Homo sapiens: one gene and its partners. The protein of the gene in region 2 interacts with the protein of the main gene of each other region in a biochemical or structural test. Each region holds a gene or a part of one and is shown on either strand. Other genes may lie near its edges. The genes, in order: DCN, FLNA, NRP1 and RALA.

Region 1 (8,235 bases), on a different chromosome or scaffold from region 2:
GTACTCCAAACTTTTCTTTTTAATGTATTACATCATCTTCCTGAGAAGTAGCTCTATTTTCGCCATGCTCATCTATCTTCCTTCCCCTTACTAAGATATTAATATACTGAGATTAAAACTACAACCTTCTAACTAGTTTCCTTGACTCTAGTTTCACCACTCTACATGTGCTTGCTAGATTTGATTTTCTAAAATAATAATTGGATCATGTTATTACCTCATTCAATTACCTTTGATAACATCTAGATTCAAGCATAATAATTGGCACATATTCATCAACAAATTAATATTTGATGAACAAATGAATGAATAAATGTATAAGTGCTCCATGGGAGAATTTCAAGTCCTTCCACAGTTAGACCTTACCCTCATTTATTTCATTATCTCCTTTTAGTTATTTCCATAAACATGGGACATTAATTTATTGTGTGACTTTGACATGTCAGATACCATGAGAGTTACTGAATGTTCAAAGAAATAAAGGAACTCAAGGCTTCTTTGAAAGAAAGTATCTGCTTAAGCCACATTGATTTATTTATTGTCTTCTGCTTTCCCATTGCCAAGGTTTGTTAGTGTCATTTTGCCAACATAAAAAGCCATTTCTTTCTTTTCTCTCCATGCATATTCTTTTCATCCCTCAGGATTTAGCTCAAATTGTACCTTGTTCATTATAAACACTTACCTAACCACTCAAATGTAAAGTGATCCATCCCTCAATCCCTTCTCTGACTTTCTAAGACAATTATTTTAATTACATCATACTTTACTTTGGCCGGGAATTATACATTATAAGTTTTCTGGTATGCTAAAGCTAAAATATTATTATACAAATCTATAGTTTATGCCATATCTCCTTATGCAACATATTTCCCTTGAGGCTATGCCCTTCACATCGTACTTTGTATTTCTTGGTATCTTCCATGGGGCCTGGTATAACACTTCCTCCCACAGTGGTTCCTCAGTCTATATTTTTTGATTAATTGATTGATGAGTTATTGTAAATTTCCTTGTATTTAACAGAGAGGTATGTACCTTGTGCAGACTAATGGATATTCAATAAGTGTTGATTTACTGTCCAAGTACAAACTAATCAATATTATGGAAATAATAATTAATCTTTTAATTAATTACAACTGACAAAAGAGATGCCCCAGAGCATTCAAGAAAAGTCAGGAAATTAAGGAACTGAATATCTCCTTGATACTTTTTAATCTATTTTAATTCATTACTTATCCTTTCCCTGTCTCTATTCCCATTTCTACTTTACTGCTCAGAGTAGAAATTCTTAACCTGGAGTCTCTGTTTCCTTATAAAGTCCATGAATGGATTTCAGCTGGACTTGGAGCCCAATAAAATGTTATGCATAAAGAAAGCCAGGCTGTTATGTAACAACACAAAGTCAAGGCTTAAACGAAAGCTTATCTAGCTCCAAACTATATCATAGCTTAGCTGATTTCTTCTGTTGTTAGGCAGAAAATCCACTGGACTATAAAAGATGTGCAGTCTGGTTATTGTACTGGAGTGTCCAAGGTAAAGTTTGTAATAACAAAAAACACAAGAGAAGCAGCAGCGGAAGCAACAAGTGTTGCTTGAGATGTGTCAGGCACAGTTCTAAATGTTTTATGTATTAAACTTCTTTGAACCTCACTATAAACTCATGAAGGGGATACCACTGTGGCTACTCACATTGTATAGGTTAAAAACCTGGAGAACAAAGAGGTTAAGTTACTTGTACAAGGTACCAGGACACCAAACACAATGGTAAGGGATGGAGGAATAGAGGCATGGGAAGATAGCCAAGGTAAAAGTTGTCTACACCAAATTTTCTTTCAAGCTATTCTGTATTCAAAGTGCCCTCAGTTCCACGCTAGTCATCTTTCTTGGCTAGGGAAGAACTCTGTCTACAGTGGCAACTACAGAGCCAGACAATTCACACCAGACCCAGATCTGACTTTGCAGAGTCAGTCTACAGACAAACCAGTCACATCAGGATTGTGAAGATAATCACTTGCCTCTAGACCTCTTAGAAAGTAAAGGGGTGTCAGAAGGAGACCTTTCTAAGCTCTGGCATTCTTCATATCCTTAATGGGCAGGTACAATTAAATACTTTGTATGTGATGTCAATGAGAGAGAATGGCCCTGAAATGAACTTCGACAATGTGCAGAATACAGTTAACCCTGTTAGCTAGTGGGTTGTCAGTAGAAATCAAAGTTTAAGTAGTTTAACAGTAGATGTGGGATGTGCTCTGAATTGGAATATTTCACATATCTATATGTCAGCCAGGGATTCAGGGAATCCTACCCCAAACATTCCAAGCCAGAATGACTTTAAGCAATCTGTGCACAGTGCTGTTTCTAGTCTTAAAATGGTTCCATTTCATGTTGGATTGCAAGAGACCTGGTTTCTGGTCATAGTGTCATGACCTCTTGGTGACTTAACTGCGTATGACTTTGTTGGGACATAGTTTCTTCTACTGAAAAATGAGTATGACGATAGATGTAACTTGTGATTAAAGATGCAGCTTTTAAATATGATGATGTTTGGTAAAATGCTTGAGATTTTGGAGGTGAGTTTCTTTCCAAACAACAACAACAAAAAGAAAATTTTTATTTGTTCCTGAACAAATTAAATAAAGTTTTAAAAGCATTGCAACTTGGTCATGGTTTGTAAAATAGTCTGAAAAGATGTTATCTCAAAACTTTGATAATTACTTTTCTATATGTAAGAATTTGCTTCCTCTTTCTTAAGATACATTATAGTTTAGTATAGTTTAGTAATGAAAAGTGGATTAGGCATGAGAAGACCTGGATATTAGTTTCTGCTTTGTTTCTTGCCAGCTCTGTGAACTTGGGCAAGTCACTGGGCTTCAATTTTCTCATTTGTAAAACAGAAATAGTAAATATGACTTATCTTGTCTAACTCAAAGGATTGTTTTGAAATATGTCAAGACATAATAAAAGCTTGCATTTACAGAGATTTTCACTTATAAGGATTAAGTTCTGAGTTAAGTGTTTTATATATATTGCCTTATTTAATCTCCACTCCAACACTATGAGTTAGGTAAGAATTTGTATCCATTTTTCAGATATGGAAACTGAAATTCAGAGAGGTTAAGCAAGTTGCCTGAGTTCATATAGCTTACTATCGGGGGGAAGGAACAAGATCTAAATCTTAACCATAATGGTTCTGCTTTTATAAAAGTAAAATTATCTACATAAAAAGGCATTATGTCTTTTTTTCTCCTCCTCCTCATTTTTCTTCTTCTACTTTTTCTTTAATACTTCCTTTTCTCTCTCTCTGTCTTGTAATGATGGCCATAATTTGTCATATACACTTTAGTAGGGTTAAGTTTTGATAAACAGTAAGCCAGGATTGGGGCAAAACACCAGTCCGGGTACGGTCCATAGCCAATCATTTGATTGTCTTTACTAATTTAGCAAATGTATCTTGGTAACTTAGTATATACCATGGCTATTCTGGGTGCAGGGATTCTACAAACATGAACACAATGTCATTCCTCCCTTGGAGTAAGACACGTACATAAATAATTATAATATGAGGCAGGAGTGATTATATGTCATCAAAAAGAGATAAATGCCATATAAGGAGAGTTCAGAAAGGAAATTAATAAATTCCAAGTAAAGGGGATCATGGACTTTTGCACCAATGTCCAGGGACAATAGTGCTTGCCTTTGTCTAAACTATCAGAATAACTAGATATGTGGTTATTAAATGTTAAGGAGATGCAGAGTAGGGTAAATTGTTTATCTGAGAGGCTGGGCTTAGGAAATAAGGCAAACTATAACGTGGTAACACGCCTCCCCCTCCTTAGATACCACTTGAGAATTTAATTTCTCTAAGTTTTTTTGAGGAAAAAGAATATTTACTGTGGAAGAATATACTTTGATGGCTGGAGGAGGGAAGGAAGGAGGCTGGAGGATGGGAGGGGGATCATCTCATGTTTCAAACTGTTGATTTCCAGTTTCCACCTGGTAACAGCCTAGGGGCCAGAGCATAATGATACAAGTCAAAACACAGAGACCTACACAGAGACAACTAACAGCATCCAGCAAGGGAATTATAAAAGCTCAAAAAAGATTTCCAGTGGCTAAATAAATACCTTTCCTTGTAGTTGCACTTGTTTTTCTTTTCATTTACTGAAATTTGGAAAGACACATAGACTCTATTGCCTTTTCAAAGTTCTAGTTTACATAAAAGTATAATCTATGAAAATCAAATTTTTCATATATAGAGGATGAAACTATGTTGTGATCAACTACAGGTTATCTATGTATTTTATTTAAAAACTGGTGGACAGGGAGAAAGATTTTAAACTATGATTAATGAAAGTGATAGATGACATACTTTTCATATAAAACCATGACTTTCTTTCAGGACACTTTAGAAATATGTCCAAAATATACAGAAAAACTCCACAGCATAGTGCTTGAATTTACACAAACATTCCAAGGCAAGTAGGAATCCGAATGAGTAGTTTCACATAAGGCTACTCATTTATTTTTGCAGTCCACATTTAAAACAACTACAAGATTAATTTCATTCCATTTTTCTGGACTTACACATCCCAAAAGCAAGAAAAAAATGTCATTTTGGAAGTATAATAAATGCTACTTGTAAACAAGGCTAGAAAGGGTGGAGAATGAAATGAGATGGGGGGTGGGGAAACAAACCCTTTAGTTACAATATCTTAGGGAAATGAATCTACAATAAGACAAATTTCAAATCAAGTTGCTCCACTATACTGCATAAGCAGTTTAGAATCTTAAGCAGATGCAAAAAGAATAAAGCAAATGGGAGGAAAAAAAAGGCCGATAAAGTTTCTGGCTACAATACAAGAGACATATCATTACCATATGATCTAATGTGGGTGTCAGCCGGATTGTGTTCATTGAGGGAAACCTTATTTTTTAACTGTGCTATGGAGTAGAAGCAGGAGGTTTTCAACCTAGTCACAGAGCAGCACCTACCCCCTCCTCCTTTCCACACCTGCAAACTCTTTTACTTGGGCTGAATATTTAGTGTAATTACATCTCAGCTTTGAGGGCTCCTGTGGCAAATTCCCGGATTAAAAGGTATGGTTTTCAATAATTGTCCTGAACTCTGCTACAGACTAATAAAACTTCGGTCAAGTTGCGAGCAAAAGGGATTATTTGGTGAGAAAAAGAAAAGGAAAAAAAAAACTGTTAAACTTTTATAGTTTTTATGCAACATTTTAAACAAGTATTATTTGAAAACAGAAGTTAAATATTTGATAAAATGATTGAATGCATTGTTTTATTTCTTTCTCTTCTGTTTTTGCAAAGATGCTTCTTAAAAAACTGTAACCTAACACCATGACTCTCTATATTAATGTTTTTGTGTTTGTATTAATGAATGTTTAGCTCTTCAAGAGATGGTAACCGAAAAGTATTCTGAAGTAGCATATCTGTAATTGACCTATATATTTAAAAAATGTATTTTTCTCCTGAATTTTTGATTGCTTTAAGGACTTTTAAAAGCCCAGAAGAACTGAACTCTGGTGATTAGCTGAAAATACCTAATGTATATTTCTTCAACCCCAGAAATGAACAGAAATTATCACCAGAGAAGTGAAAATAAACATTGAAAATATTTATGTTATTAAATGCCTAAGATACTAAAAACGCTGTATAATTTCTTAAATGTAAAGTGTCCCAGTCAGTATCTTCACTGCAAGTGAAATTTTAAGATACATTCACTATAAAATGAGGATGTGGGTTAATTTTCTAATTTTAAAACAGGGTAACACAGTGACCACTGATTAAGTGGGCTCCCAGTGATGTAAATACCTGTGGCTTTTTTTTTTCCTGTTGCTGTTTCTAACCAGAAAAGAGCCAAATGCCTCCTATAGTAACCCTTGTTTGTGGATAAATGCCGCCTTTATTCTTTATTTTAAAATTACATATATTATAATTGAAGTTTTTAATCATCTAGTGCTGTAGGATTTTAATTTTGTTTTGCATTTATAGCTTCACTTATCTCTTGAGGGTTAAATTTTGACTTTGAAAGTGACACCAGAGGCATAGATAACATAATGCAAATGTTGATCTGGATGACATACTTCATTTAATGGGCTTAACTAGTTTTAGGAACCAGAAATTATTATTTTTGGTAAAACATTTGTAAACTATGGCAACTAGCTTCAGTGGAGTAGTGATATTACATTAGTAATTAGCATCTTGGACATTGTCATGCATTTTTAGACTACTTAAAACAGTTTCAGTATAATTTAAACAGCATATCATCTCAATAACAATCTCTTTGGTTACTACTTGGACAGCTGCTCTTTGCTCTTTATATTTCTGATTAATTAAGGAAAGAAGGAAATGACGAAAGGAATTATCAGTATTGACAGCCCACATTAAATGTTTTAAGATGCTGGGTCTTGAAGTACCATGACACTAATTTAAAACAGATGATTTTATGGAAGATTTTGCACAAAGTTTCTGGACATGCAATTATTTTTTCACAGTACAGTCAGGGTTAAATGCACACACACACATACACTCTCTCTCTGTCACACACACATGAACACACACACATACATTCTCTCTCTCTCACACACACACACACACGAGCAAATGAAAATGAAATAAAGGTCGGTGATTGAAGTTATAAGCTGCCTGTCTATATTCAGCTTCAATCAAAAAGAATATTGTTTGGAGAATTTGTACCATTTTAACAGGAGTAAACAAACATAAATTATAATACTATTTCTCTCAGCTAATACTCAACATTTTCTTTTTGTGGGTTGTTAGTGAAACAACCAGGCATGTTCTGCTCTGGAGAAAAGATTTCAAAGTGACATCTGCATTAACTGTCGTTGCTATTTATTAAATCTGCAATGACTTTGCTTCATTTTTCTTTTAAACTTGTAAGACATTAAATATGCAAGGCTAGCAAGCTTGTGGTAAACCATAAACATTGCATTTTTAATGGGAAACAGATACAAAACCACTCCCTCAGATACAATCCAAAGGAACAGGCTGCCAAAACAAAAGTCTTCTCTTAAAGGGATACTCAGTAACTGAATGAGAGTGGGCTGCTAGAAGAAGCTTAATGTTGAACTTAAAGTGGCAGTGTGAATAATAATCTTTATGATATTTTGTTAAATGAAAAGCCACAAGCCTGTATTCAACATGTGCTGCCTTAGACACATATCAGTAGTAAATATAAACTAAGAACAAACATGTAAGAAACTGAAAAACATTTGTTTCTTCTCTAGAGAATCTAGGCAAAAATTCCCAGAAGATACCTTAAGGTTAGATCATACAAAGATCTTTCTTTTCTCTTCTCTTCTTTCTTTCTCTCTCTCTCTCTCTTTCTTTCACTTTCTTCCTTTCTTTCTTTTTCTCTTTCTTTCTTTCCTTTTCTTTCTTCCTTCTTTCTTTCTTTCTTCCTTCCTTCTTTCTTTCTTCTTTTTTTTAATATGCTACAATTGGATAATGACTCAAAACAGCTGTAAGATTCTACTTACGAACGTACAGCTTTAATATGGATTCGTCTAAGTGTACAATTCAAGGTAGAGATGATGGGACTAAATATCTGCTATGATGGGACTAAATATCTACTATGTTTTGGAGATATCAGAATGGTTTCAATGCAATTTAAAAAATATTTCATCTCCCAAATGACTTTGCTGCTATATAATCAAGTACTTTTGTTATTCAGATTTATTACGATTTTGTCACTCAGATTTATTTAGTGCACTTCAGTTGATTTAACAACATAGATTCGTGCTTGTGGAATGAATGGATAAATATGGAATACATTTATCAAAACAATACTTGTTTTTTTACAAAATGCCCTGTTAGCAAAATGAGATCATATATACATCACATAAAAATCAGAATTTTCCATATGTGTTTATTAGCTTATTAAACATAATGTTTGAGAAACTAGGAAATTGATTTATTTTTTAAAGCCGATCTTGCTTATACCAAGTTGAGGTTTTCAATCTGCTTTTTTTATATCAGAAATTCGATACTGAAAAAAAGCTAATTTTGTGTTTTAAAAAATCAGACTGATTGCTTGGAACAAATGGAATAAATCGTCTTGTCAATAAAGTGATGGTCAATTGAGTCATTTGTGTGCAAAATATTGTGCAAGGCCCGGGTACAGAACAAGGAATAATAAGACACGCCCTGAAGGAGTACATCGTCTAGTGAGGGACAGACCAAGCACGCAAAACAAAT
Region 2 (7,692 bases):
TGCGGCCAGTAGCGCACATCACAGGAGCCGTCGCCCTTGTCGTCACATTCGATCTTAGCCTGCGATGGCCCTTCCACCGAGAAGCCTGACAACAGCCACCAGTCCCCTCAGTGCCCTGGAGCCTCAGGGTGGGCCGTCCTTGCCATCGTCTGTCCCCAGGTGCCCATGCTGCAGCCTCCAACTTACCCAGCGTGCCCACGTCGTCCCCGATAGCCTCCACCACAAAGTCTGCTGACTTGCCAACGACGCCGCCCTCCAGCCCAGGGCCCCAGGCCCGTACCTTCTGATTGCCACACTCGGTGCCCACCTTCACTTCGAAGGGACTGCAAATGCGAGAGCCACACAGGGAACACCGAGGATCACCACATGAGCCAGCGTGGGCCCCACTGTGGCGGCCAGGCAGGAAGAGCCCATGTGGCCCCTCATCATCAGGTGGGGAGGCAGAAGGAAGAGAAGAGGCAGAGTGTGCAGAGCTGGGAGAGGGATGCCTGGGGGCCTCACCTGCGCCCGATGTTCTGACCACCCCACGTGATGGTGACGATATAGGTTCCAGGGACCATGGGGTAATACTCGAAGCCATACACGCCATCCCCCAGGTCCTTCTGCTTCACGCGCTCCTCTCCCTCTGCCAAGACAAGGAGGGCCTCAGGCCTGCCCAGCAGTGAACCCGGGGGCTGCCGCCACCCATCCTGGCCTGGCTCCAGGCCAACTTACTGGGGCCCTTCACGGTGACCTTCAGCTCCCCACTGCCAGCGCCCTTTGTGTACACCTTGAAGTCAGCTGTCTCCTTCACCCGCACACCCTTGGGCTGGAGGCCCCGGCCAACCGCCCGGCAGGCACTCGGGTTACAGGCTGCAGGCAGAGGGGCCAGCTGAGCACCAGCAGCTCGGCTGGGCGACCCCTCCCTTGCCTCCCACAGGGCCGGGCTGTCAGGATTGGTGGGTCCCTCAGAGCTTGGCTGGAGGGGGACATGCAAGACAGAACTGGAAGGGACTGTGACCCCAGGAACTGTGGCCTGGGCCAGGACATGGCAGGCCTCCTCCCACCTGCTCCACACCAGCCCAGAGCCCCCCACCCTCCCCCTTCCAAGAAGAAGACAGATCCAAGTACCGTTGACCCTGTGGGCAGAGCAGAGAGCAGCAGGTTTCTAGACAGCTGGAGCGAGCTCTTCCGAAGGTGAAAGCGTGAGGAGAGAGATGGAGAGGGGCGAGGAGAGGAGAGGAGGAAGGGCCCCAGCAGGGGAGGAAAAACAGCATGTGCCCAGACAGTAGAAGCTCAAAGAGTAGGGGCCCCGGGGCGGGCTGCAGCGGGACTGGCCCAGGGGGTCCCCCTCCTGTGGGAGGCCCAGACTGCAGTGCCACAGCAGAGGGCAGTCAGGGCCGGGCCTACCTTGGCCAACAGTGACAGTGTAGGGGCTGCGAGGGATGGGCACGCCGGCAAACGTGACGTGCACGGTGTGGACGCCCTCCATGGTGGGCTGGTAGCTGCAGCGGTATGTGCTGTCGCCCCGGGCCTCCAGCTGAGGCTCTACCGTGCCCTTCTGTCCCATGGGGTCCTGGATCACAACCTCGACCTCGCCCGTGCCAGCTCCTGCCACGAGGCACCTGCTCAGCTCCCAGGCCCCAGTGCGGCTCTCCCCACAGACCAGCTGGGCCTTGGCAGCCTCCCCTCACCTGCCGTAAAGATCTCAAAGTAGGTGGTCTTGTTGGCGATGTTGCCACTGGGCTCCAGGCCGGGACCTTGGGCTGTCACTTTGCTGGCGTCACCCTGTGACTTATCCACGTACACCTCGAAGGGGCTCTTGGCGATGTGCTGGCCAGCAAAGAGCACAGTAACCTGTCCCCAGAAGGGTGGGCCGTGAGGGTAGGGCTGGGGGCCTCCAGCCACTGCCTGAGGTCACAAGCCTCCCCCCTGGCCAAGGGCTCACCTTATGAGTCCCCGTCACCTCGGGGACGTACCAGACGGAGAAGGTGCGGTTCTTGTCGTTATTGGCGGTCACTTTTGCCTGCAGTGGGAAGGAGCCTGTGAGCCTTTGCTAAGAGCAGCCCCACTGAAAGGGAGCGCTGCGGGGCCTCTGCTGCCAGCAGCTGGCCCTACCTCCTCCTGGTGTCCGGCCGGGTCCTCCACGTACACCAGCACCTCTCCCTGGCCAGCACTTCTGGTCTCCACAGTGAACTCTGCCCGCTTCTTCACCATGTTGCCTGTGGGCTCGATGCCTGGCAGGGGAAGGCGAGCCAACCACGGGCCAGCTGTTAAGGCCACAGCCTCACCCCTCCACCCTTCAGCCCTCCCTGCTGGCCCCTAAGTCAGGCACATTCCAAACTGGGCAAGTTCATTCAGTGTGAGCTGTGGCACAGAGCCTGGCCTCGGGACCCAGCTGTGCTCTCGCTGCTGGGACAGGCCCAGCCTGTTTTCTGGAACATTCATTCTCACCGCACTGGGCCCTTGTTCCTGTGTGAGCCTTGACTGGGTTTTAGGTCCCTGTTACTGAGACCTGGTTCATCTCCATTTATAATAAAGACCGCTGGATGCTACCTCCCCGAGGACCCCACGCAGCAGGCTTCTGTGACTGGAGGAACCTATTAGCATTCTCTTGTCGTTTTCACTAGTCCCAAAAACCCACTCTTGTCTGACTCTTGGGTGGCTTGATCACCTAGCCGCCATGTAACCCAAGACCCCTGGGGACCGCCACGTTTAGATGGGACACTGTCTTATGGGGAAGACGTTGGCACACGGGTGCACCCCTGGTGGGGCTCCCTCACCTGGCCCGTAGGCACGGGCTTTCTTCGGGTTCAGTTTGGGCCGCAAGGGAGCCCCTGGCTTCAGCTTGGCCTTGGGGAACTGGGACAGGTAGGTCATGACAGAGTGCTCGTCCACGTTGGGGTCCACAATCTCCTCGGGGGTGATCACCTGTCACAGGCAGAAAACAGGAGCCATCGGGCCTCCGAGTCTCTCCCAACTGCCGATCCGGTCCCCTACAGCTGTAGCCAGGCCGGGCGGGTGTACCTGGGGGATGCCCAGCCAGTCATCCGCCTGCTGCATGGCCTCTCGCGCATTGGTAACGGGCTTGCTGGCGTCCCAAGAGTCCCAGTCAGGACACAGGCCTGTGGCGCAAGGGAGGCTGTGAGTCTGGGGGCCGCAGAACCCCCTCAAGGGCCACCCATGGGTGACCCCAGCCCAGTCTCTCCTGCCTCTGCGCCCCCTCACCCGGGGCACAGCTGTCCACCAGGGCGCCCAGGGCCCGGCCGCTCTGCCAGTCCCGGCTGAAGTTGGTGATGGGCAGCTGCGGCAGCTTGTTCTGGATCCAGCCCAGGAGCCTCTGCTTGGGGGTCTGCTTCTTGGCCTCCTCATCCTCCTCCTCGTCCCACATGGGCATGGAGATGGAGTAGTGCAGGATCAGGGTCCAGATGAGGCCCAGGATCAGCTTCAGGTTCCCGTCCACGATGGCCTTGCTGTCTGTGAGTAGAAGAGTGGCCACGCTGGGCACACGGCTGTGCGGGAGGGGCCGATCCCAGGCTTTGGGGTCAGGGTCTGGCAGCACGGGGTAGCAGGGGCCAAGGAGGAGGTAGACACCCCCTCTTGGCCAGTGGTAGGATGTGGATGAGGCCCTCTCTGCCCAGGGTCCCAGGGGGTGTTCAGAGGTGAAGGAGACTTTGGGGTGAGGGCAGATACACACAGACACACACACACGATGCCAGCAGGGTATGATTACTGCCAGAAGCCCTGGGCCCAGAGGAAGGGCAGAGGGCAGACCCAGCCTGCAGATGGGCAGCTCTGGAGAACAGCTGGACAGTGTCCACAGCTGCCAGAGCAGGGGTCCGCCACACACCTCAGGGGCCTATGGGGAACCAGGAGGAGGAGGCTGACTCCAGCTGGCCCAGAATCCAGGGCCCATGACCTGGAGTGGGGCTGGGGCTGAGGAAGAGGAAGGTGGGTGGCCCTGGGTGGTTGGGAAATACAACTGTTGTTCCAGGGTGGGTGGGGTGAGGCAGGGGAAGTGGGGGAGTTGGGCAAACGCCCTTTGGGTGAGGGATTGTGACCCCCGCCACCACCCCCACTTCCTCTACCACCTCGAAGACTCAAGCTTGGAGTTGGGAGGCCACAGGCCTAGCCAGGGGAGGGGCCCAGAGCCCAAAGGAACCAGCAGTTGGGCCACATGGCCCTGACTCACTGGGGCCCATCGGGAGATGCCGGGGTGGCAGCAGGAGACACTGGGAACCCCCTTGCCACCCACTGCCTGACCCACTTGCCACCTAACGGGCCTCTGGGCCTCGGCAGGCTCGCCACAGGGGAAGTGGTTAGGGCGGGTCCCTGACACCCCCCATCACCATGGCAACCCTGCTGGGCTCTGGGCCCCACCCAAGGCTACTTCTGGGTCTCAGGCTCAAGGCAGGATGGCTCATCTTTAGAAGCCCTGTCAGCCTCCCCCATAATCAGACAAAATACTTCTCTGGTGAGTCAACTAGGGGGCGGGCCTATGAGGAGGGGCTGGGCTGTCCATGGCAGCTGCTTCCCAGCCCAGCAGGCAGCACCTGGAGGGCCAGGTGAGCCGCTCAGAGTGGCCTCCCCAGTTCCCAGGTTGGTCCTGGCCCCACGAGGCTGCCTTTCACTCTCCCCAAATGGCAGCAGGGAGGGGGACTCGGAGAGGACCAAGGGTGCAGGGCCAGGGAACAAGGCCAGCCAGGGCTTCCCATCAGGCCCCCACCCCAGTCCAGCCTCAGACCCCTCAACGACCCCCACACGGGGAGCAACCAGGCCCACCAGGTCCATGTTAGGCCAGCCTACTCCGTCCCCATCCCCCTCCCAAAAGAGAGAGGGAAGGACCAGGGCCCAGGGCTGGGAGACTGTCTGGCTGGATGGCCCCGCCCCATCCCACCCCCCTTTCCCCAGCCCCTGGGCCAGCCAACCCCTCCCTCCCCTAATCACTGCTGCTTTCCAACATTTTTTTGCCTTATATGGCAAAGCTCTGGGAACTAGGCCTGCTCCAGCCAGCTCACAAGGAGGAGGGGAGCTGGGAGGAGGGAGGAGACCCCCCCTAAAGAGCTGGGGTGTGGCCCGCCTCCCCACATCCGGTCGCCCCCCCTACCATCCAGGACTGAGATGACTCAGCTTGGCTAGACTGAGGCTGGGACTTGTGGGGGTGGGCCTGCCCCTCGCCTCAACTGGCATTCCAAAGAAAGAACTTTGGTTCTTGGGATCTGCCCTCTGAGTGGCTGGGGGAACCCAAGTCTTGGTCCCTCACTTTCTTGGGTTCAGCAAGGGCCATTCCAGGGCTGCAGGGTAACTGGAAGGCCTCTCAATTCTGAAGAAGAGAAGACTCATCATCCCTCTCCTCTCCCTGTTCCACATCACCCCCGAGTCACCCATTCTGGGGCCTGCCCTCTCATGCAGCCCCTATCTTGAGAACGAATTGGGCTGCTGCAGCAGGCCTGGTCAATGCCAGCCTCTCCAGTCCAGTGACACAGACACTGGGCTGGCACAATGCACGCTGGAGCATCTACCAACCAACTCCTGCGTGCTACACGCAGAAAAGCAAGGCCTACATGGAAGCAAGAGTTTGGCCCAAGATGAAGAGAAAAGTTGGCGTCCAAGTAGTCTACAAGCCAGGTCTCTCAGTCAACCACGCCCAACTCACCCCGGGTGCAGTTTTGCTAACTATGCTTCTTTCTGGCCCCCAGGTTGCCTGTGTGTGTGTGGGGGGGTAGATCTAAACTGGTGGTTGGAGCCATCTCCGATGGGCGACCCATCCTCCAGGGACACAAAGAGCCCAGAGCCCCAGACAATGGGACGCACGAGCTCCAACCCACACTTCAGAACCAACGGGCCTCTGAAGGCCAGAGGGCCCTCTCTAAACAGCTGTGGGGGGAGAGCCCGGGCCTCCTCCTCCTCGGGGACGGGGCGCAGGGCCAGGAGCCTGCCCAGTGCCCGACCCCCCAGGCCCACTCCCACCGCGAGCACAGCCGCGGAGGCGCGGCCTGCGGAGGATGTGAGTTCAGCCTGGGCGCCGGCCAGCCGGGGCGCAGCGGGCGGGGGCGCGTAGCGGTTCGCACGCCCGGCCGGCCAGCCAGCCAGCCCGCGCGCCTTTGTTCTGCAGGCCCGCGTGGAGCAGAGCAGCCGGAGGCCTCGGGAGTTGCGCTGCGGCCCGGAAGGGGGTGGTTTGGAGGGGTCCGCCCGGGGAGATGGAAGGACGCACGGAGTCCCCGCCCCCGCCCGCCCGGCGCTTCGGGGCGTCCCTCACCGATGGACACCAGTTTGATGCTCTCGCGGTCCAGGAACTCGAGCGCCACCGACACGTTCTCAAGCTGCATTTGGCGGAAAGTGGGCCGCTGGTTGTGCTTGCGGTGCATCTTCTTCTGGCTGAGCACCTCCAACAGCGCGATAAGCCGCAGCCCGTCGCTCAGGTCCGTCTGCAGGTTGGCGATGCGCTTGCTCACGCACTTCAGGTGCTCGTTGCACCAGCGCGTGAAAGTGTTCTGCTGGATCTTCTTCCACGGCGCGTCCTCCGCCAGGTCCTTCTCGGTGGCCGGCATCTCGGCGTCCCGCGTGTCGACGCCGCCGCCCGGAGCCGCGCCTGCTGCGCTCTGGCCCGCCCGAGAGTGGGAGCTACTCATTTTGAGGCGCGAGAAGCCGGGGGGGCGGTGCTGCAGCCTCGGCGAGGGGACGGCCCTTTAATTAAAGTCGCAGGCACCTAGGCGCGCGGGAGGCGAGGCAGGGAGCAGAGGTTGCGCTGCGGAGAGAGCGAGCCCTTTAAATGCGGGAGGAGGGCGGGGCCAGAGGGCGGGCCTCCTGCGGGGAGGGGCCGTGGGGTGGGGCTTCGAGGGCGCGCCTGCCCCACCCCGCCCCGCCCGTTGGAATGCCCCCACTAGGCCCCCGGGTTCGGCTGATCAGACGCGAAACCCGGGCTCCAGGGTGGGTCGCTGGGCAGTGGGGTGGGCAAGGATGCTCCCAGCCCCGCAGCCTCGCGTTGGCGCTGCAGGAAACGCGCCCTAGAGCGAGGAAAGGCTGAGCAGTGTCTGGCGCGGGACTGCTTGGCCTGCAGCCGGCGCGCCTTACAAGGGACTTTCCTTCCCCAGGGCCCCTGCGGGGGGTGGGGTGGCTCTCTTCCCTAAGTCACTTGGGCTCTGCCCCGTCCCTGCACATCCCTACCCCCCGCCGTCATCCCCCTTCCCCGGGCCCCCAGGGCCTAGGGTTCCCCGGCGGCATCCCCGTCCGCCGGCCCGGCAGCGGCGGGAAGGGGCCAACCCTAAGAGCGAACCCCTGGAGAGCGGCAGCCCCGGACCAGGCACTGCCGAGGGCGCTTTGTGTGCTCATCACCTGGGAAGCGGCTGCAGGGCAAGGCCTGCGCCTACGCGGTCCCCGCAGACCCCCTGCCACGGGCCCGCCTTCCCAGTCCGTAGGGCCCTCGCCCGCGCACCTGTGCCCGCTGCTTCCCACCGCCTCCCTCTCTGCTTCCCTCCACCCGGGAGGATATGGGGCACTGGGCCAGGAGGCCGCCGGCACTCCAGGAGCAAGCAGCCTTCGAAGGGGTCCGGGCATGCCCACGGGCACGCCAGTGGGCGCGGGCAGAGGGCGCCGTGCGATGCATGCAGAGACGTGTGCCCGCCTAACCCTTCATGCCAGTTCACCCGGGGCACTGGGGGGAGCTGAAGCGGGGGGTCCTCTCCTGTCGGAAAGTCCCCTCAGCCCAGCGTG
Region 3 (7,692 bases), on a different chromosome or scaffold from region 2:
CACAAGTAGATGTTTCTGACTTTTAAAATATCTGAAATGACTTAAAGGACTTCAATGAGATTCAGAGACTTGGCCTAGTATTTCAGAGTTGGTCTTTATGGGTCTTGTACTAGGTGGATGTAAGACATAGAAAACCAATTCATATTCCCTAGTTCTTGATATATAATTACAAATAGCATTACTAATGGCAGTGTAATAGCACAGTAATTAGTCTTCAGCTCCATTTGCTACATTGAAACTTTTGTTATACATCATTATATAATAGGATGTTAATTATAACAAAATGGGATAAGCCTATTGGGCCAATTTAAGACAAAGGAGGTCTGTTGGCTGTAATGGGGGTTTTGGTCACTTCAGCAACTTACAAAGCTTTTATTATATAATATATTGAATATATATAATCCCTAAAGCGGCAATAATTTGATAGGATCCATCGAAGAAATTGGGCAAAAAGAAAGGAGCAATGAATAAAGGCTTGCTTCTTCATACTATTAAAGGGAATCTGCTTAGTGCTGCACTATTTAGCAAATCTTCACAAGAATGATAAGGCTTAATAGTTTAGTTGCAACTCCTTTACAAATTACCCACATCCATATCTACACTGCTGTAAAAATGTGTATTTCATGTAGTAACACAGTGTCTGTGATTTCTTCACTTCTCCATTCCAAAGTGAGAGTGATGATGGTGATGTTTTGGGATGTGAGAACAAACTCCACAGACTAAAACAAAGAAACGAAATTAAATTCAGTTCAACAAGTTCTAACGAAATTCAATTCGGTTCAACAAGTTCTAACTGACTACATACCATATGCAAAGCAGCATGCGGATGCTCCAGTGAAAGTACATGGCTGAGCCGGGTGCAGTGGCTCACGTCTGTCATCCCAGCACTTTGGGAGGCCGAGGCAGGAGGATCATTTGAGATCAGGAGTTTAGGACCAGCCTGGCCAACATGGCAAAACCCCATCTCTACTAAAAAATACAAAAATTAGCTGGGCGTGGTGGCACGCAGCTGTAGTAATCCCAGCTACTCGGAAGGCTGAGGCAGGAGAATTGCTTGAACCCAGGAGGCGGAAGTTGCAGTGAGCCAAGGTCATACCATTGCACTCCAGCCTAGGCCACAGAGCAAGACCCCATTTCAAAAAAAAGAAAAAAGAAGGAAGGAAGGAAGGGAGAAAAGAAAAGAAAGCACATAGTTGAGACAATTCTATGGGACTTTTTCTTTTCTTGTGATTTGTCCATTTAGCTGTAGTTGCTGCCAGACATTGTAGTGGGAAATTCACAACTACGGCTCCATTAAACCACTTTGTTTATTTGTTTATGCTGCTACCAATAAAAATATGTGTAAGACAATTGTACAATGATTCATCAAATATGCATCCTTGAACATCTGGGTGTGGATGCTATGAGATTATCAACTATTTATTAATCTTTCATTCATTCATACATAGAACAAATATCTATTAAAGCACCTATGATGTGCTAGACACTGTTGTAAATGCTGGAATACAGCAGTGGACAAAGCACTCAAAAATTCCTGCTCTGTACTTAGTACCACAGGAATACTGGAACTCTACTTCTTCAATAGCTATTTTATGTATTTATCTATTTTTGTAATACACAGGGCACAGTCTCTTGCCTCAAAGAGTTGGCATACTATTCGAGAAGCCAAACTAACGCACACTAAATTTAGGAAGCAGTTATCTACAAACTATAGGATGGTCACCATATGTACGAATCTACTTCAGTAGAACCTATATTCACCAGATTTTTTTCCACATTTCAGATGCCAAAACCATGTCTCTTCCCCCTTCTCTTCTTTTTTTTTTTTTTTAAATTTGTTGTTGTTGTTTTTGCTTTTTTGAGACAGGCTCTTGCTTCCGTCACCCAGGGTGGAGTGCAGTGGCACCATCATGGCTCACTGTAAACTCCATCTCCTGGGCACAAGCTCTCCTTCCGCCTCAGCCTCCTAAGCAGCTGGAAAGCTAATTTTTTTATTTTTGTAGAGATGGGATCTCACTATGTTGCCCAGGCTGGTCCTAAACTCCTAGCCTAATGTGGTTCTCCTGCCTTGCCCTCTCAAAGTGCTGGAATTATAGGCACGAGCCAGCATACCCAGCCCACCCTTGTCTCCTAAAACAACAGATTCTGCTAGCAGCAGTGCTACCTGGATTTAGATATGGCACCTTAAAGGCAGTGTTGTGATGTCACATTACCAATTTCCCGGTCATTTAACATTGCCTCTTTATTGATCTGTTTGGTGATTTCTGATTGAACTAAAAAATCCAAAAGGAGCCCAGTAGACACGTGTGTGTGTGTGTGTGTGTGTGTGTGTGCATGTACCTAAAGGTTTGTGTAGTTTGGTGCATTATATTTTGATGGCAGTTCAAATATCTCTTTCAATTTTGTTTGACTTGTCAGAACCAGCAGACCTGGATAAAAAGAACCCAGAAATTAAAATTGATGAAACAGGTAAATTTGTCTTGCTGACCAATTTTTAAAAAATTTTACTATGGCTTTCATTGTGTTTATGAAGAAACTTTGTGGAACTCTAATACACTGGTATGTCAAAAAGTTCAAATAAAAAACATCTATGCCCATGGCCCTGGGTTGGTGCTGTGGATCGGATTGTGCTCACAGAGTACCCACTTCCGAGCTGCCCATAAGACTTGGGGAGCCTCGGTGACGGGTCCTGCTTGTACACCTGGTTGAGCCTGGGAAGTGTGCTCACCCTGGCCCTTCCCTGCCCAGTCTAGAGGTGGAACATAAAGGATAATCAGCTCAAACACACTCAGTTTATCACTACAAAGACAGAAAATTAGTGAAGACTATTTCCATACACAGTTATTTGAAACCAACCGAAATTCTTCTGTTTGTTGATATCCAGCTAGGATCTTTAAGAGACCAGAGCCCAATTTCTGAGATAATCCATTGTGTTTGATTCATCTTTTCCCATCTTCCTCTACTAGAACCTTGGTTTTGTGATGATGATGATGATGATAAGAAGGATTTATTGAAGAGTTAGTATGTTCTGAGCACTTTACTTACCTGATCTTTTTCTTTTCTTTTTTTCTTGAGACAGAGTCTGTCTCTGTCACCCAGGCTTGGAGTGCAGTGGCGTGATCTCAGCTCACTGCAGCCTCCACCTGCCAGGTTCAAGCGATTTTCCTGCCTCAACCTTCCGAGCAGACTACAGGCCCACACCACCACACTCAACTTATTTTTTTGTCTTTTGTAAGGTGGAGTTTCACCATGTTGCCCAGGCTGGTCTTGAATTCCTTAGCTTAAGCAATTCCCTGGCCTCAGCCTCCTAAAGTGCTGGGATTACAGGCGTGAGCCACTGCACCCGTCCTACATACCTTATCTTATTTAATCCTCACAGCAGCTCTAGGGGTTGTATTTGTCCCCATTTTACAGATAGTGAGACTGAAACTTAAGTAGCATAGCTAATTAGGTGGTAGCCTCACACTTTAGCCTGATGAACTATAAATGTGTGTTTTTGCTGAACGCTGCTTTGTGATCAAATGCAAGACCTTTGATCAGAGTTAGGCCTTGCCTGGTATTAGTCTATTCCCAGAAGTTTCCAGATCTCCCAGCCAGCATTGTGGGCTGTTGGACACTTGCTCCACCATCACTCACAGCTGCTGTGTGGATGGTGCTGCACCCTTATCATCAATGCATGTCAGCATCTGTTGCCCTTAGAAATGGGATCCTACTCTATGGCCAGCCGTGGACTTCATAGAGACAAATAAATATTGCACCTTGCTGTTAGTAATATGAACACATTACCAAGTCCACACAGAGATGTAAACTTTATTAGAGGTTGTTTCAAAACAATATTTCATCAAGGGAGAGAGTATTAATATGCCCCAAGGCTTGTTTTCTCTTGGTTAGGGATTTGCATCTCATATTTTTAGTTTTCTTTGATTGGAATCTTTGTTGATCAGAACACCATTAAGTAAACCCCAGGCATATTGTGCGTTAACATTTTCATCCCGTTTCTAGTACCAGGTAATTAGGCTCAAAGCTCCCATGTTAACAATTTCTCCTGTTCCACTCCAAAGAAAACAAGTCCCCAGTGACTGAGCTGCAGAGCAGTGCAACTGTCTCCAGTTAAACTACCAGGGCTGCAAAGATGCTGATTATTAGTAAATGTCTTCTATTTGGCATGACAGACATGGTTTCTCGATTTGAGCCACACTCTGTTTACATGTCAGCAGCAAGCATTCTCTTGTTCTAAAAAATCACTCCTTCTTTACTGAAACTACTGTAGACTTTGGGCAAAATTCGTTTCACTTGAAGATTTTCCATATGGGAGAACAAACACATGCATAAACCATGCCAGATCCTGGAAACAGCACCACGTAGAAGGGCAGCCATGAAGGTTTTTCTTGTGCCTGTTTTGGGGTTAGGTACATGCACTGGGAATGGTAAAATCCCCTTGCTAGACTAATGTGTGACTAAGCATTTTGCAAAACTTAATGATCACCTATCTAGCCAAGGACTGTAAACACAGATTACAATCTAGGACAGATGGGGCTGCATGAAATCTGAGTTAGATGAGCAAGGAACCTCCCAGTTGATCCAGAATGGGTTGTTTCCACGTGCTAAGCAGTCTGTCAGAAGCCCCAGCGCCCACTCCCCTCTACCACCTCCCACACTTCTGTTCCCAACAATGAGTCAGATATGACAGGCAAAACTGGGGTGTGTGATTTGCTCCTGTTTCGTTCCTTTCTATTTTTCTGTCTGCTTTCATCTGGTCTGTTGGCGGTGCTCACGGAGACAATATTGTTTTTTTCCATAGGGAGCACGCCAGGATACGAAGGTGAAGGAGAAGGTGACAAGAACATCTCCAGGAAGCCAGGCAATGTGTTGAAGACCTTAGACCCCATCCTCATCACCATCATAGCCATGAGTGCCCTGGGGGTCCTCCTGGGGGCTGTCTGTGGGGTCGTGCTGTACTGTGCCTGTTGGCATAATGGGATGTCAGAAAGAAACTTGTCTGCCCTGGAGAACTATAACTTTGAACTTGTGGATGGTGTGAAGTTGAAAAAAGACAAACTGAATACACAGAGTACTTATTCGGAGGCATGAAGGCAGACAGAGATGAAAAGACAGTCAAAGGACGGAAGTGGAAGGACGGGAGTGAGCTGGGGAGCTGTTGATCTTTCACTATACAGGCTGGGAAGTGTGTTGATGACCACTGAGCCAGGCTTTTCTCAGGAGCTTCAATGAGTATGGCCGACAGACATGGACAAGGAGCTGTGTTCACCATCGGACTCATGTGCAGTCAGCTTTTTTCCTGTTGGTTTCATTTGAATAATCAGATGCTGGTGTTGAGACCAAGTATGATTGACATAATCATTCATTTCGACCCCTCCTGCCCCTCTCTCTCTCTCTCCTCTCCCCTTTGTGGATTCTTTTTGGAAACTGAGCGAAATCCAAGATGCTGGCACCAAGCGTATTCCGTGTGGCCCTTTGGATGGACATGCTACCTGAAACCCAGTGCCCAGAATATACTAGAATCACCGCATTTCAGTGGACTCCTGAAGTTGTACTTGTGTATAATTGCCCGCGTCGTGCATAGGCAAAGAAGGATTAGGCTGTTTTCTTTTTAAAGTACTGTAGCCTCAGTACTGGTGTAGTGTGTCAGCTCTGTTTACGAAGCAATACTGTCCAGTTTTCTTGCTGTTTTTCCGGTGTTGTACTAAACCTCGTGCTTGTGAACTCCATACAGAAAACGGTGCCATCCCTGAACACGGCTGGCCACTGGGTATACTGCTGACAACCGCAACAACAAAAACACAAATCCTTGGCACTGGCTAGTCTATGTCCTCTCAAGTGCCTTTTTGTTTGTACTGGTTCATTGTGTTACATTAACGACCCACTCTGCTTCTTGCTGGTGAAAGCCCTGCTCTTTAATCAAACTCTGGTGGCCCACTGACTAAGAAGAAAGTTTATTTTCGTGTGAGATGCCAGCCCCTCCGGGCAGGCAAGGGCTCTGAAGATTTGGCAACGTGGCTTAATTGTTCTGCTTTTTCTGTAGTTCAATTTCATGTTTCTTGACCCTTTTGTATAAAGCTACAATATTCTCTCTTATTGTTCTTTCATATGGAATGTATTTTCAAATGTAAACTCTCTTCTCTTTCTCTCTCCTATCTCTCTGTCTTTTTTCTCTCTTAGAATTGGAGGATTTGCCATTGTCCAGGAAAGAAACTTGCAGCTTTAACCTGCTGGGAATGGCAAACGATTTTACTAGACTTTATGTTTAAAAATAAATAAATAAGGGAAATTCCTAACTTTGCCCTCCAAAGTCTAACTTTGGTTTTCTTGTTAACTGGTTAAAGTGACAGTATCTTTTTTCCTTATCTATTCTATTCAAAATGACCTTTGATAGAAATGTTGGCATTTAGTAGAAATAGTGATAAGTTGAGGAAAGAAATAATACAAATTGGCTTTCAAGTGAGACCCAAAGGAAGAACTGGATAAAATCTTCCAAATCCAAAAGCATGAGATTTTTCTATCCAAATATGCAAAAATGACCCAAGAGAACTTTCTTATTTTGCTACTGAGTCACACAAGGGAAGTGGAAGGAAGAACAGTTAATTTAAGAATGAAACTATAAATCCTGATGCCTGGGGGTCAAGTATTTTAAGATAAGAGGGGGAAAAACACATAAAGTCAAACAAATGTTTTAAAAATTCATAACAGCAACCTTGAAAAAATAGACTTAAATGAATGCTTCTAGAAACTTCCAGCGGCTCACAAAGAATAAGCCTGCCTTAGGGCTGGCAACATCTAAGCCTCTAACAGCACAGGGAAGCAAATATCTTACCAGGCAGCCTATGAATTAACCCAAAGAAGCTTTGGTTGGTTTTGGTGGATTTTTATCATGCCATGTTGGACATGAGATTTTTTAGATCTTCCTTCCCACATTGCTAGACGTCTCACTCAAAGACATTTGTTGGGAGTCACATTTGCATCATAGACGAGACAGTCCATTCATCTTAGTTAAATTGGATTGAGAATGCCTTTTGTTTCCAGGAAAATATTGATCACCATGAAAGAAGAATAGTTTTTTGTCCCCAGAGACATTCATTTAGTTGATATAATCCTACCAGAAGGAAAGCACTAAGAAACACTCGTTTGTTGTTTTTAAAGGCAACAGACTTAAAGTTGTCCTCAGCCAAGGAAAAATGATACTGCAACTTTAAAATTTAAAGTATCTTGCACTGATAAATATATTTAAAAATTATATGTTTATAAAGTTATTAATTTGTAAAGGCAGTGTTACAAAATGTTCAGTTTATATTGTTTTAGATTGTTTTGTAATTTTTAAAGGTGTAAAATAACATATTTTTTCTTTATGGAAATCTATAAAACTTTCTGTAGTAAAATGTTTTCATTTTACTGGTATATTATTGCTTCATGTTTTGTACCATCATAAGATTTTGTGCAGATTTTTTTTACAGAAATTATTATTTTCTATGACAATATGACACTTGTAAATTGTTGTTTCAAAATGAACAGCGAAGCCTTAACTTTAAATGACATTTGTATTCTCAGACACTGAGTAGCATAAAAACCACATAGAACTGAACTGTAACTTAAATTCCAAACTATGACTACTACATTCCAAAGAAACAGTTGAATTAAACATTTTCATAAAATATCCCACACCTGATGGCTTTTATT
Region 4 (7,692 bases), on a different chromosome or scaffold from region 2:
AGATGAGGAAACTGAGGTAAGAAGTACTTTGCACTTTGCTCAGACTTACATGACTAGGAAGAGCAGAACCATGGTACTTTAAAATTGATGACACTTTCACAGTGGATAACTTACCTCTCAATGCAAAATCTATGCTCAAGGTCTGACTTCCAGTAATTTCTGGCACATTTGGGTTTTGAAAAACAATTGGTGGGACCCTTGATATGATGCAATAAGAATAGCACTTTCTAAATCTTCCTCCCAAGAACCAATAACCCTACTTTAATCATGAGGAAAACATCTGACAAATCCCAATTGAGAGACATTGTACAAACTGCCAGCCAGCAGTCCTCAAAACTATTAAGGTCATCAAAAACAAGGAAAGTCTGAGAATTACCATGGCCAACTCAAGGCTAAAGAGACATGACGAAACTAAATGTCATGTGGCAACCTGGATGGGATCCTGGAACAGAAAAAGGATGTCAGGCAAAAAGCAAGCACATTTGAATAAAGTTTGGACCTTAGTTGCTAATACTGTATCGATATTGGTTCATTAATTGTGATTTGTGTACCACAGTAGTAGATGTTAACAATAGGGAAAAATAGGTATGGGGCAAACAAGAACTTTCTGTGCTATCCTTATAATGTTAATATTTCTTTTTCATTTTCTCTTATCCAGGGAGCAGATTTTAAGAGTAAAAGAAGATGAGAATGTTCCATTTCTACTGGTTGGTAACAAATCAGATTTAGAAGATAAAAGACAGGTTTCTGTAGAAGAGGCAAAAAACAGAGCTGAGCAGTGGAATGTTAACTACGTGGAAACATCTGCTAAAACACGAGCTAATGTTGACAAGGTAACACGTGACTCTTTACTACTGCATCATGTTAAAATAGGTTGGTTTGCTTTAACTTGGCTCCATTTTGTCTGGAGAGTCTATGAAACTTTCAAATAGAGGTTTAATCCTTGTTGATTTTTATCATCCCTGAATACTCAGATACATGTTAGGAATTTTAGTTCACCTTGTCCTTAGCTTCCCAAGAGACATTAAAACATGAGACACTACAGCTAAATGTACTTTTTTTCTTTTTAAAGCACTGATGGCATTCCTGACTTTTTTCCCCCCTTATCCTATTGAGTCTTTGGATAATTTAGAAGGAATCGTGTGAGTCCCAAGATTCCAGCACTAAACCGTTCTTACCTCTGACCTGACATCTACCCAACCCCACTTAAGTTCTTAAAAATAAGGGTACCTCCCAAGATGAAGAAGCCCCCAGATAAGAGCGTTTTAAAATCTCTCCTGCCACTCTCCACTCCCCACCCTCAACCTTTGTTTTCTCCTGAAAGAGAAAGAAAGGAAAGTAAACACTCTGCCCTCCTTTCTTGTCTTCTCGCTTTGTTCAGAGTGGCCCTTCCTGAAGACCAGATGTGGAACACCTGCAAGTACATTTCATCCCACTGCCCTAGACCAGCTCCAGTATCTAGAAAGACTGCTCACTGGGCTGAGGTAGCACAGAATCTTAAAGGCCTCCAAGTGGGGTCTTTCTTCAGCCTGCAAGTATCTAGGCTCTATAGTGTGCCTCTCAAGCTCCAATAGGCAAAAGAACTGCCTGTAAATCTTGATAAACACACATTCTTGGGTCTTACCCCTAGAGATTTGGATTCATTTGGTCTGGAATGGGGCCTAAGAATTTATGATTCTAGCAAGTGCTGCATGTGCTTGTAGATTTATAACCCTGATCCAGAAAGTACTAGGTTAAAAAAAAAGTTTGAGATTTGTTCTGTTATTTTGCTGTAGGTCTTAAGACAGTGTCGTTGCTGTCTTAAGCTTCTTAACTTTTTAAGACATTGTCAGATTCCTTTAGGTCTAAGATATCTGTACAAAGTGAGTACTACAGGATTCTATTCAGGATACGAATTTTTTCTAAGGTTAGGACTAGGGCAAGTGTGTGTGTGTGTGTGTGTGTGTGTATGTGTGTGTATGTGTGTTTTGCTTAAATAACAAAGTTATTTCTCACAGTTCTGGAGGCTGGCGAGTCCAAGATCAAGGTCTTAGACAAAATGATTCTGGAGAGGGCTTTCTTCCTGATTTGCTGGATTTCCTTATACCTTCCTGCTGCATCCTCACATGACAGAGAGAGAGAGATAGCTCTCCTGATTCTTCTTAGGATACTAATTCCATTATGACAACCCTACCCTAGTGACGTAATTACGACCCAAAGGCCCCATCTCTTATTGCCATCACATAAGGAATTCGGGTTTCAGTATATGAATTTTGGGGTGACACAAGCATTCAGTCCATAGCATGCCCTATCATAGTTTCCTGGGAACCATGGTTTCTGAACACAGTAACTAGGGCTTGGGTATTTCAGTTAGCTTCCATTTGGAAATGGGAACAAGAATACCTGCTTCATAGGATTATTGTAAAGATGAAATGAAATCACATATGTAAAATGCCCAGCCTGTGCCTGCCATTTCTAAGTCATTAGAAAATTATAGATTTGAAGAGACAATTTGTATGGCAAATATTTTTAAAATACTAATGAAAATATATGTTAAGATTGAGGGTGTTTGAGGTTTTAAAAGGCAACGTTGAACATTCTCATAGCATATATATACTTTTCTAATCGATGTTTCGAGTAGGTTGTAGAACACACTATAAAAACTATTTGAACCTAAGGGGAGTGGGGAAGAGATGCAGACACTGGCAATCCAAGATAGAAAGCTATATTGTAACAGTCCTTGTGGTGATCATCTGTTGGCATCAGAGGCCCTGGGAAGTATGGTGTCTGTATTAGCACAGCTCTTACAGGACAAAAGCCTAGGGAAAATGGCCCAAAAACAGCAACTGGCATGTCGTAGAAAGGAAACACAAATGGCCTTTAAACTGGAAGAGAGGCTCGGTCTCACTTATAAAAAGGGAAGTACAACTTTAAAATATAGTGGAATGTCCTTTTTTTACCCGTCACTTTGGGAGAAAAAAAGCAAAGAGGTTGAGAATAGAATATACTGTTAGCAAGAGTATAGAAAAACAGGAACCTCTCATATGTTGGTGGAAGGGCAGTTTTGTGATACCCATCAGAATTATGACCCAGCAATTTAAGTGCTAAAAATGTTATTTTTTTTTTTTTTTTTTTTTTTTTTTTTTGAGACGGAGTCTCGCTCTGTCGCCCAGGCCGGACTGCGGACTGCAGTGGCGCAATCTCGGCTCACTGCAAGCTCTGCTTCCCGGGTTCACGCCATTCTCCTGCCTCAGCCTCCCGAGTAGCTGGGACTACAGGCGCCCGCCACCGCGCCCGGCTAATTTTTTGTATTTTTAGTAGAGACGGGGTTTCACCTTGTTAGCCAGGATGGTCTTGATCTCCTGACCTCATGATCCACCCGCCTCGGCCTCCCAAAGTGCTGGGATTACAGGCGTGAGCCACCACGCCCGGCCTAAAAATGTTATTATACAGAACAAATTATGCACTCACGTATACGTGTATGTTCAGTGGTAGTCAGTGAAGCATTATTTTTAGAAGCAAAAGACTGGAAATATCCAAGTGTTCAGTAATGGACTGGTTTAAATAATGGAGTTTTGCCCAACCATTAAAAAGAAATGAGGATAGAACTAAATGTGCTGATATCAGATGATCTTCAATTATAAAGTAAGTGAAACAAAGTACAGAGTGGTGTCTGTAGCTTGCTGCCATGTGTTTTAAACACACATACATACACATTATCTATGTACACATCATAAGGATATGTAAGACTCTGGTACCTGTGGTTGCCTCCAGAGAATTAAGCCACAGTTTATGCTTTTTTCACTGTAAATACCCTTGTGAACTTTTTGCCATATTCATGGACACTTGGCCCTCAAACAACACAGATTTGAGCTGTGCAGATTTTTTTTTCACAGATGCAGTCTGCCTCCATGTCGGTGGGCTCTGCATCCACAACCAAATGCAGACAGAGAATACAGCAGGATGTGAAACCTGCATATGCGGAGGGCTGGCTTTTTGCATCCATGTGTTCTGCAGGGCCAGCTGCGGGACTTGAGTAGGTAGAGATTTTGGGATCCACGGGCATTCTGGAACCAATCCCCCATAGATACTGAGGTACGACTATGTTACTTTTTCAAAAAATAAAAAATAAAATAAAGGTATAAGGCCGTTTTAGTTACTATGGCTGTATAACAAAGTACACCCCAGAACCTTTATGGGTAAAACAGTCATTTATTCTGCTTATACATTCTGTGGCCAAGAATTTGAACAGGGCACAGTGGAAATGGCTTGGCTCTGCTCTACAGTGTCTGCTGCCTCAGCTGAAAGCTTCAAGTCTAGGCACTGGAAATACCTAAACTTAGGTTCTGAAGGCTTGTTCGCACATGTCTGGCTCAGCCAGATGATGCTGGCCATTATCCAAGGATGCCTCAGTTCCTCTCCAGGTGGGCTCCTCCATGTGGCCTTTTCCATGTGTGCTAGTTTAGGCTTCCTCACAGCACAGTGGGCAGAGTCTCCAAGGGCAAGTGTCACAAGAGAAAAAGAACCAGGCAGAAACCATACGGCCTTTTATGACATAGTCTCTGAAGTTATGCAGCATTATTTCTACCTCATTCTACAGGTTGGAGATAGTCACAAAGTCTCACCTAGGTTGAGAAGGAAGGGGAATAGACTTCAGCTCTTGATGAAAAGTGGCAGGATTCTGGAAAAGCACATAGGAAACATTGCTGTGGCCAGTTTCAGTTAATACAGTCTGCAGTCGGTGGTCACCTGTCCAAAACAGAATTACATTAAACGAGGCTGCTTGTAAAGTGAGGTGCAAATCCATACTGAAGACTATAATTTCATGTACTGCTACATCCTGCGGAGTGATTACCAGATAAAGTACCTCAGTGGCTACATAAAAGTCATTTGCAGCAACTATTCAATTTCCAGAATTAGGTTATACTTGTGTTTGTGGTTGTTTTCCTGAGGAAATAATCTAATAATCAGAAAAGCTAATATTTATTTGTGTTTATAAGAGCCAGGCACTGTGGTAAGTACCAACCATTTAATCCTTAATTGTGTGAGGCGTAGATACTCTTCTGATGCTCACTTTTTAGACAAGGAAGCTGCGGTGTGGGGAGATTACGTAACTGGCTCAAGGTCACGGGGTTCGTGGTGGCATCTGCAGCTTCTGGGTCTGGCCAACTCTGGCGCTCACATGCTCACATTCTTTCTTCAATATTTTACTCAAAACAATGGTTGGGGCCAGGTGCCACCACACCTATAATCCCTGCACTCTGGTAGGCCGAGGCAGGCAGATTACTTGAGCCCAGGAGTTTGAGACCAGCCCGGGCAACATGGCAAAAGCCTATCTCTACAAAAAATACAAAAACTAGCCAGGTGTGGTGGCGAATGTCTGTAGTCACAGTTACTTGGGAGGCTGAGACAGGAGGATTGCTTGAGCCTGGGAGGTGGAGGCTGCAGTGAGCCGAGATCATAACCACTACCCTCCAGCCTGGGTAATGGGAGTGAGACCCTATCTCAAAAACAAAACAAAACAATGGTTGGAATAGCTAGTGTATCTCCCATTTCTTATGTCATCCACTACTAGAAGCCTGATCACAAATTTTCAGGAATAGCAAGTGTTATTTCCTTTTATTAAATTGTGAAGTGTCATGCTTTGTCACAGAACAAATGCTAGCTCTCCATAAGATCATTGGCTCATGCGTTATCCTCATCTGGAGTCCAAATAGACCATTAGGTGGAAGTTTCAAAGATGCAGATTTTAAATCTAGTCATGAAAAAGTGTCATAGCCACCAGAGCTGGGGCATGGCATGTCTCAGGAAGCCATGCTTGTCACAGAGGAATCACTCCGAGGCTAAAGGAACATCTGGGCAATCCTACTTGTGTACTCATTGGATTCATTCAGTGACCTTGTTATTATCCTTCTAGCTAAATGCTCTGGGTCTTAATTCACGACTCCAAGGTTGCTCTTGATTTTAAGGAACATTTTGGCAGAATAGAGAGAAGTTGAGCAAATATTAACAGATGTCCAAAGGGGCAGTGTGATTTATTATGTCAAGAGAATCAGTTTTATGTCGAGGGAAGAATTTTGGTAGAAATACACTGTATTTTTTGGAAAATATCATATTTGGGTTTTTTCATTGTATAAGTAATACATGGATACATGCTTATATAAAGAAAAATTCATAATATAGAAACATAAGGAGGAAAAATGAGTCATTTTTCTCCCATAGTTCACTCCTTTCCCCTCCCTTTCAGTAACCAGTGCTAACACGGGTGTGTCTTTCCAGACGTTAAAAGCAGTCATACATATCTCTAAGGGAAAGTTTGCATTTGCTTGTTTTTTCTTCCTGTATTAATAGGATTTGTGTATATATATACACACACGTAATATATTTTGTATCTGTATATATAGAGCATATTTCTGTGGTGCGCTTTTTAAATTTTATGACAAATCCTACAGCTCTTCCATGTCACTGCATATAGATGTATCCACATTCTTTTTAAAACCACAAAGTATTCCATGGTTAGACTTTTCCATAATTCAGCCATTTTCCTATTAATGACATTTATTTGTTACAGCAGTGTTCACAATAGCCAAGATACAGAACCAACCCAAGTGCCAACAACAGATGAATGGATAAAGAAAATGTGATAGATATACACTATAGAGTACTATTCAATCATTGAAAAGGATGAAATCCTGTCATTCATGGCAATATGGATAGAACTGGAGACAATTAAGTGAAATAAGCCAGGAACAGGCAGTTAAACACTGCATGTTCTCATTCATATGTAAAAGCTTAGAAAAAGTTGATCTCATAGAAGTAAAAAATAGAACAGAGAATACTAGAGGCTGGAATGGGAGGGATAGGTAGAGATTTGTTAAATTATACAGAATTACAGCTAGATATGAGGAATGAGCTCTGGTGTACTATACTATTGTAGATGACTATACTTAACAATAATGTATAGTTTCAAATACCTGAAAGGAGGATATTGAATGTTCCCAACACAAATAATAAATGATTGAGATGATGGATGTGCTAATTACCCTGGTCTTAGTCACTGTACGTTATATGTTTCAAAACATCACTGTGTACTCTGTGAATATGTGTCAATTAAACAGACAAAATTCAATTGAAAATAAAATCAGAAATTAAACCTTCATCTAGTTTCCTTTTCATAGTGATTTATCTGCATTAGAAAGCAATACTGGGAGTATTCCAATAATTACATTTAGTCAGAATCGAGACCTCCTGTCCTAGCTAGTTAGCCAGAGACTTGAAACAGAGGTCTTCTGAAATTCCTAGTCTCTGGGGAAATAGAATCACAACCACTAGGGGCAAAAACCCATGGCTTTTATGTCATCATTGTGTTCCGTTCTGTTGCATACTTTGTGTGTGGGTGTGTGTTTTATACTTTTTTCCCTTTAACCGTTTATGCTCCTTCATGTTGGTCCTATGTCCGTTTGACTCAGCCCATTCATCTTTGATAGTTTCGTTGCTTTCTGACTTAAATTTTATGCTTCTTGCTGCAGATCAGGAATCAGCCATTCATCTAAGGAACTCAGGTTCTGTTTAGGAGGAATGATATTTAGCAGCCACAGCATAGTTACATAATTTGCTTGTTGCTATTGTGTTGTCATTTTTCAGTGAATAGTTCTAGGAAATAGGTATTATTAAAAGAAAAAAATGTGATCATGTTGTTATTTCCAATTCAAA

The links.
Region 1: the proteins of FLNA (region 2) and DCN form a complex in vitro, tested with the Homo sapiens proteins (one study listed by BioGRID).
Region 3: the proteins of FLNA (region 2) and NRP1 interact in a biophysical measurement, tested with the Homo sapiens proteins (one study listed by IntAct).
Region 4: the proteins of FLNA (region 2) and RALA form a complex in vitro, tested with the Homo sapiens proteins (one study listed by BioGRID).

What each region holds. Positions count from the first base shown.
Region 1 is NC_000012.12:91,179,514-91,187,748, reverse strand, and holds the start of DCN (decorin isoform a preproprotein), read left to right. Parts: upstream 1-4,931; 5' UTR 4,932-5,094; intron 5,095-8,235. UniProt on the Homo sapiens protein: May affect the rate of fibrils formation.
Region 2 is NC_000023.11:154,364,635-154,372,326, forward strand, and holds part of FLNA (filamin-A), read right to left. Parts: intron 6,728-7,692; 5' UTR 6,612-6,727; coding exon 6,239-6,611; intron 3,457-6,238; coding exon 3,208-3,456; intron 3,105-3,207; coding exon 3,007-3,104; intron 2,911-3,006; coding exon 2,763-2,910; intron 2,217-2,762; coding exon 2,098-2,216; intron 2,006-2,097; coding exon 1,928-2,005; intron 1,837-1,927; coding exon 1,674-1,836; intron 1,591-1,673; coding exon 1,390-1,590; intron 853-1,389; coding exon 715-852; intron 626-714; coding exon 502-625; intron 324-501; coding exon 187-323; intron 86-186; coding exon 1-85. UniProt on the Homo sapiens protein: Promotes orthogonal branching of actin filaments and links actin filaments to membrane glycoproteins. Anchors various transmembrane proteins to the actin cytoskeleton and serves as a scaffold for a wide range of cytoplasmic signaling proteins.
Region 3 is NC_000010.11:33,177,475-33,185,166, reverse strand, and holds the end of NRP1 (neuropilin-1 isoform a precursor), read left to right. Parts: intron 1-2,418; coding exon 2,419-2,469; intron 2,470-4,801; coding exon 4,802-5,091; 3' UTR 5,092-7,674; downstream 7,675-7,692. UniProt on the Homo sapiens protein: Cell-surface receptor involved in the development of the cardiovascular system, in angiogenesis, in the formation of certain neuronal circuits and in organogenesis outside the nervous system. Mediates the chemorepulsant activity of semaphorins.
Region 4 is NC_000007.14:39,696,027-39,703,718, forward strand, and holds part of RALA (ras-related protein Ral-A precursor), read left to right. Parts: intron 1-658; coding exon 659-833; intron 834-7,692. UniProt on the Homo sapiens protein: Multifunctional GTPase involved in a variety of cellular processes including gene expression, cell migration, cell proliferation, oncogenic transformation and membrane trafficking.